Homo sapiens: one gene and its partner. The protein of the gene in region 1 purifies or fractionates together with the protein of each later gene. This does not show direct contact. Each region holds a gene or a part of one and is shown on either strand. Other genes may lie near its edges.

Region 1 (3,791 bases):
CTATGTATTAATATTTTCAATCTTTCACATGCTTTAAGTTTTGTAATTTTGATAAGGTTAACTAAGCTTTATATCTATCTTGAAAAGATAAGTTTGCCTACTATTTCTCTTTAAAATAAATATGACCTATGGTATATCAGTTTTTAAACAGTGAATGGTGCTCAAAAATCCCAATACAAATTCAGGCAGTTTTCCCGTACATAGAATGTTTAAGTGCTTCTAGCACCACTCTTTTTCACCACAGTTATGAAAACACAGAACAATTATCTAAGCATCTAATTACTCAGGTCCTTTGTTCCTCATCCATTCTATTAGTTTTATAGTAATTCTAAGGCCTGTGAGAATGAAGTTGTCTGTGAAGCTACCATAAACATTACTGTAAGTGGACAAATTTCAAACAAGTTCATCACCACTACCATCCCCACCATAAAACTGTCTTAATGGAGGGAAACACAACTCAAGATTAACCAAACCAACCTCTTTACCTGTCACTGCTCAAGAAAAAGATTTTTTTGTCTTATTTAGAAGTAACTTTCTGTATCTATTTTTCTCCATAAATCCACTGAGACCATTGTGTGGCTCTATCTCAAGCACCAGCAACCAAAACTGGTTGACCAGAATGGTCAGTTTTTGTATCTTTCCAAATGTAGGACACAGCTATCTTCAGGGATTTCATCATTTTTTTAAAACTGATGCACAAACTTCTGGAAGGTTCAGAGATAACAGCAGTTGTAATTCTTCTGAAGGCCAGTTATGGGACACATTACTTTCATAGTTTGCTGTTCAATAAATGTGGGGTGGAGAACGAAGTAAATTGACAGAATTAGCATATAGTACCTTAATAAAATTCTAACTGCTCTGACAACAAAAGATACTTAAAATGCATACACATGGTTCCCTGCTAATCATTTTACAAATAAACAACCAAGTAGCTAACCTAGAGCCCACAAAAGCAGAGTAAAAATTCTAACACTTGTTGAAATAAAAATGTTCATATACCCATGATAAAAAGAAAATGCTTAAGTATTCAAACACAAGCAGCAAATTACAGCTACTGAGAACATCATTGTAAGCAAACTGAGGCACAGAAAAAGGTGCTGATGAGGATCTGAACCACCTAAGCTGCAGAAACCCACTGGGTGGTTTCCTAGGTTCCAAGTTGGGATTATCTTTCAGAATCTTCTAGAAGAGATCACATAACACTGTTACAAAGGATCTGGAAAAAGGGACCCCTGCTTTATCACTCTGGCTCTCCAGTCATGCTTGACATTTGGCAGTGACTATCTCCATTCAACTCAATTCCCCACCCCTCAACTAGCTGACATTTATCAAATACTACCCTTTTCCAGGTCTAAATATGTTTAACCAAATTAAAAAAAAAAAATCAAGATACTAAGGGATATACTATTCACAAAAGGGAAACCTAAGTCTTCTCTTCATATATCTGTTCCTTTCAAGGACAGGTATAAAAATGGGGATGAGGGAGCATAAATAACCACCAGGAATTTGACCCTATATTATAAATTGGTCAGATAAACGAAAACAATGATTCTTCTGGAATGAAAGTACCACTTAGGTGCTTAACATGACAGTTCTGATATTTCCAAATGCTCTTCCATGAATTCAATTTGGAAAGGTAATCTGTCCCAGGAGGGCAAACCAAAGAGAAAAGTCTTAGGCTCCTTAGTCCAGGTTTATTTCCTTTGTACAACTTTGACTGGACTACTTTTTAATCATAGTAAAGACTAGAAAAATGCAAGATGAAGTTAACAGCATTGCTTTATTTCCCACAAAAACCTGTTATAAAGCATTTTCAAAATAAAGTGTTATTCAGCCACAAATGACACCATCGCTTTTATATTTGTAGAACATAATATCATTGCCAAAGAGCTTTCCTCTATATGCTCTCTTGCAGTGCAAAAAAATATTATCTATAGTACACAGAAACACAGTAAAAGAAGTGACTTACTTAAGCTCCTAACTACTAAATAAAAGCTAAACTTCTCACTTCCTCCTAGATTCACAGCTCCAACATTTTTAAAATTTAGTATCTTGCTGTTGGGGGTAGGCACTTTTTGGCAATAATGAATAGAAATTTAATTAACCAATCAAAAACAAAGTCCCACTAAAAGCAGCCTAGCAAACAGCCACTTATACGCAGAAAGGGTAATCATTTATGCTCTACAAGTAATATAAAAAATGAAGTTTCATTTGTTTACTAGCTAATTTACTTCCTGGGGGAGATTTTTCATTCTAAAACAGTGATTTCCTACCAAGAATGCCCAGATGCCAAAAAGTCCATAAAAGGAGTAATGGAGTTGCCAAGTTATGTTAAATACTTCAAAACGACTAAAGCCATATACTAGCTCCCAATAAGGCTGCTTAAAACAAGCTGCTTTGCATTTCGGTGTGATTGTAACAACTAATTAGACGGCAATCAGGTTAGTTTACTGAAGATGGAAAAACTATACTTAAGTTTGTATAACAGGCAATCTTTCATATCATGGCTTCACAGAAAAGAATAAAAAGGACTCGAGGTTGAAAAAGAGCACTCTTTTCCCTTCATTATTTAAGATCAGGACAAATTTATAAAACAGGAAAAGAATTAGCTCAATTCCCTTGGCCTACAGAGTAAAACATCTACTCTGTTTTGGTCTTTTTCACTTCTTACACTCTCATATGAAGTCAATTTACAGACTTCCATCAAGCCCTTAGAGACCTTTTTGTACTATCCATGACAAGTTATTGATGTTATCTCTGCACTTTTGACAAATTCTTAGCAGTTAACTTACAAGGCAGTTAAGATTTTTGTTCAAATACAATACAGCTAGAATAGCGCTATATACTCAAATATTTATGAAGCATTTATTGAGTGGAAGATAAAAAGCACAAAGCATAATTATAAAATATTCTCCCCTGCCACCATAAAAAGAAAAATTTAAAGGCTTACAGAATACAGCATAAGAAAACATGACCAAAGCAAAAATAGTAAGGACTAAAGAAGGGAGGAAGGGGAAATAACAGCATGAACTAAATATGACCCAGAAGAGCCTTGACGGATGGTCAGGCATATAAAGACAAATGGGGTAAGGTTAAGGGGTGGAGGTCAGGGGCACATTCTACAGGGAGAAATACAGCTGATACAGAAACCTGAAAGGAAAAGCCAGCAGAGCACCTGTACAGGACTCTTCAGGAACTAGCATGCACGTGTGTAAAAAACAACTTAGTTTCTCAAACATTAGAGAAACTGCATAAGGATGTTTCTTGGTAAGTATAAAGAAAACAAGTCCTAGCATGTAGAATTCAAATATTTGAACTGTCTAAAGAGGAAAAGTTAAAGAATAAGTCAAACTCATTACCTTTTCCAGAGTTACAACTTTAGAGAATAACAAATCATCGATCAAACCAAATCATTTGAAATCCAACCCCATTTTTCCCTTGATCTTTCCCTTCTAAGCAAATGGTATCGACATGAACAAGCCATGTCATTTTATCAAAACAGTCATCCATGTTTAAAAGAGTCTTTACGGCCAGGAACGGTGGCTCACTCCTGTAATCCCAGCACTTTGGGAGCTTGAGGTGGAGTTCAAGACCAGCCTGGCCAACATGGTGAAACCCCGTCTCTACTAAAAACACAAAAATTAGCCGGGTGTGGCGGCGGAAACCTGTAATCCCAGCTACTCGGGAGGCGGTGGCAGCAGAATTGCTTGAACCTGGGAGGCGGAGGTTGCAGTGGGCCCAGGTCACACCACTGCACTCCAGCTGGGACGACACAGCGAGACTCCGTCTCA
Region 2 (3,791 bases), on another chromosome or scaffold:
ACGGTCTGACTTTGGAGCCGCCCCTTCTCTTGGCCACGCCCTGTGCTGGTGCCTGGTTCCCAATGCCATCAAATTGAGTGGCTTGTAGGTCGGAAAGTGACAGCCCCAGCCACTCACTCTTACATGGAAAGGTTAAGGGGTGCAGGGCTCCAGCCGGTTTCCTCCCGGTGCCCTGGCACTGGCATGCCCTTGTTGGCAGTCATCCTCCTCCCGGGTTTTTCACACAACCTGCAAGTGTAGATGAAGGTGTGTGTACACACTTCTCCTCTCGACACAGACAGTATTTATGGCGTGATCCTGTGGCACCCCCTGCCTTCCACAGCCGCGTCTTCCATCGGATTCCCCAGCAGAGCCTTCTCTGTGTCTGGCATGGGTGCTGACCTCCCTAGCACTCTGCCCAGCCTTCTGGAGCTCCGTGGGGATATGGGCCACACACACAGGGGTGTCTGAGCAGGGGGGCAGGTGCTGTCCCTGCCCAGGCCCCTCGGCCCCCAGGGGAGTGTGGCGCATTGGGGGCCCGAGTGTCATGTGTTCACACTTTTCCTTCTCTACCCACCTCTCGGTGGTGCCTTTCTTCTCTTAGGGTTTGTTCTCATATTTTCTCTACCCACTTCTCCTCAGCGTTGCCTTTCTTCTCTTAGGGTTTGTTCTCATGTTTTGCCCCGTGTTCAGTTTGTCTCTAAACATTGTCACGGTCTTTCTTGCCCATTTGGAGATTGTCTTGGTGTTACTCAAGCAGCCAGCCCCGGAACCTGGCCTGTGCAGAGCCTGCAAGGGCCCGAGTGCTGACCGGCCTCAGTGACACTGCCTCTGCGGGCCCGTATATGTTGACCTGGGCTGGTCTTGTTTCTTTGTTTGAGACAGAGTCTTGCTCTGTCACACAGGCTGGAGTGCAGTGGCGCGATTTCGGCTTGAAACAACCTCCGCCTCCCTGGTTCAAGCAATTCTTGTGCCTCAGCCACCCAAGTAGCTGGGACTACAGGTGCACACCACTATACCTGGCTAATTTTTGTATTTTTAGTAGAGATGGGATCGCCATGTTGGCCAGGCTGGTCTCGAACTTCTGACCTCAGGTGATCCGCCCACCTCGGCCTCCCAAAGTGCTGGGATTACAGGCGTGAGCCACCGCGCCCGGCCCCTGGGGTGTTTTTAAGTGAAGAGTTGGTGCCCTGTTCTGAGGCCCTTGGGGTCCTCGCTGTGGGGGTTGCTGACCCCCAAGCCTCTCTGGTGTTTTGTTTACTAACGCCGTCATCGGGTCACGCAGCACAGCAACAAACAGACCTTGTAGAACTTGAGACACTGTCTTCTCTGAGAGCTATTCTGGTGATGAGATGGGCGGACCTGCTGTGGGGCCAGCAGGGTTGGGGGGCTGCCCATCTGCTGAACCTGGCCTTGGTTGCAGTGGCTGGACCTGCACCTGCATCAGGAGATCCCCACATCGCTGCTCATCCTGTCCCGGGCCATGTACCTCCCGGACACCCTCTCTCCAGCCGACCAGCTCAAGTCCACACTGCAGACCCTCCCAGAGATTGTGGTACGTGCTGTCGGAGACCCCTTTTACCTCATCTCTTCATAGGTGGCTCCGCTCTTCTGGGGTGGGGGGAGGTGTGCAAGCGCACTCATTCCTCAACCATGGGCGAGGAGCCTGCCTCCCACCCCCTCGCGAGTGCCCCCACCCAGCCACCTGTCCCCTTCCTTCCATCCCTCCTCACCAGCCCCTTGCCTGCCATCCCCCGTGTGGCACAGTTGCCAGTGGTCCCGACCTGGCCACGTGTTGGCTGCTGTGGATCTGGGCCGCGGCCCTTGGAGCTGTGTCAGCAGCGCCTATGCTCCTTCCCACATGTCAGGAGTCATCGGGCGAGCGCAGAGGGCGGCCCAGGGGCCTCCCAGCAATTGCGGGCAGCACCTCGGCAGTGCCTTCTGTCCTGTGTGTGTGAAGCCCAGGTGGTGACGGGGCAGGGGACACAGGACACAGGACAGAGGTGAGGGGCAGCAGGGGCCTCTGGTGGCTTCTGGGCTCACCCACAGATGTACCCTCTTCTGAAGGCAAAGGAAGCACAGGTGAAAGTGGCCGAGGTGGAGGGCGAGCAGGTGGACAACAAGGCCAAGCTGGAGGCCACGCTGCAGGAGGAGGCGGCCATCCAGCAGGAGCACCGTGAGAAGGAGCTGCAGAAGCGCTCGGAGGTGGCGGTAAGCGGTGGTCCTGCTCCGTGCCGCGTGGGGCTGTCCTGAGCCAGCCTCCCTAGAAACCCCCGCACGCCCACAGTCTTGGCCTCCCGCATGCTTGCCCTGCAGCTCTGTCCTGCATGTTTATTTCCTCCTGGAGTGGTCAGGGAGGCAGGGTGCCCGGGTGTGAGGGCTGCAACTCTGACATGGGGACTCCCCGATGGCCACAGTGGTGCTCATGGGAGATATACCTTAGCCGTCTCAGAGGGGCAAGCTTAGCATATGGCAGTGCCCACCCTCTCCTCAGGGACTTGCTGTGAGGGGCGCTGGCAGAGGAGCTGCAGGCTCCCCCAGCCTCTGGGCTCCTCTTCAACGCGGGCCCTGTGGTCCTCTTGGGTCACATGCATGGTGCCCACCCACAGGCTCAGCCTCCTGCTCTGCAAGTGACAGGGCAGCTTGGGGGAGTCTTGGGGAGACCAGAGATGGATAAGGTGCTCTAGCCTGTTCTGGAGAGGGCCCCAGGTGACCTGGCAGCTGCATGGAGCCTCCCTAGGGACCTTCTGTGGCAGGTGTGCTGCCCAATGTCACCTGCAGGCCTGCTCCCAGTGTGGCCTCTGCCATATGTTCTGAGCTTCGGGGAGCAAGAAGACTGCTTCTGTGTGATGGCGGGCGCTGGGCTGGTGTCGCCTTGCCTTTCAGAAGGATTTTGAGCCCGAACGTGTGGTAGCTGCTCCCCAAAGGCCGGGGACCGAGCCACAGCCAGAAATGCCTGACACAGTCCTGCAGTCAGAGACCTTGAAGGACACTGCCCCGGTGCTGGAGGGCTTGAAGGTAATGAGGCAGGTTCTGGGGCCCTGGAGGCTGAGGAGGGCATGGCCTGGCTTTGTGGACAGTTGTGGGGCAGGGATGGGGACAGGTTAGCTGGGGCATCTATAGCCCTCAGTGAGAGGAGATGGTGCAAGGGGTTGAGGATGAGGCCACTGGGCCCCTAGGAGGCTTGGTGGTTAGGAAAAGAGTGAGTCCGGCCGGGCTCCGCACTGTGCCTGGGTGCACAGCAGCTGACGCTGCCGTGAACTTAGCACCCTGGCCCACAGTGTGGCAGGTAGAGATGCCAGTCGGCAGGTTTCAGGGCCCTTTGCCAGCTTGCCCAGACAGTGAAGGGGTGTGGAAGCCAATGTGGCCCCTCAAGGTAGAGCCTCCTCCACAGGCCCAACCTGCTGTCACCTCCTGTGGGGTGATCTGGGCTTGGAGCATCTTCAGACTCCCCATGCGAGCCTGTGAGGTGCAGCCTCCAGGCGCCTGTGCTGCCTACCTGGGGCGCCTCCTGGTACCTTCCATCTTGAACTCGCGGGCTGAAGTGCAGTGGCGCCATCTCGGCTCAGTGCAGTCTCAGCCTCCCAGGTTCAAGCAACTCTTCTGCCTCAGCCTCCCAATATCTGGGAGTACAGGCGTGCACCACCAGACCCAGCAAATTTTTGTATTTTTAGTAGACAGGGGGTTTCACCATGTTAGCCAGGCTGGTCTCAAACCCCTGACCTCAAGTGATCTTCCCGCCTCAGCCTCCCAAAGTGCTAGGATTACAGGTGTGAGCCACCACACCCAGCCATAAAAAAAAAATTTGGCCA

The links.
Region 2: the proteins of UBE2Q2 (region 1) and LETM1 purify together in Homo sapiens (affinity purification with mass spectrometry; one large-scale study listed by BioGRID and IntAct). This does not show direct contact.

What each region holds. Positions count from the first base shown.
Region 1 is NC_000015.10:75,846,255-75,850,045, reverse strand, and holds part of UBE2Q2 (ubiquitin-conjugating enzyme E2 Q2), read right to left. Parts: intron 1-3,791.
Region 2 is NC_000004.12:1,821,387-1,825,177, reverse strand, and holds part of LETM1 (mitochondrial proton/calcium exchanger protein precursor), read left to right. Parts: intron 1-1,402; coding exon 1,403-1,534; intron 1,535-2,046; coding exon 2,047-2,190; intron 2,191-2,865; coding exon 2,866-2,997; intron 2,998-3,791. UniProt on the Homo sapiens protein: Plays an important role in maintenance of mitochondrial morphology and in mediating either calcium or potassium/proton antiport. Mediates proton-dependent calcium efflux from mitochondrion.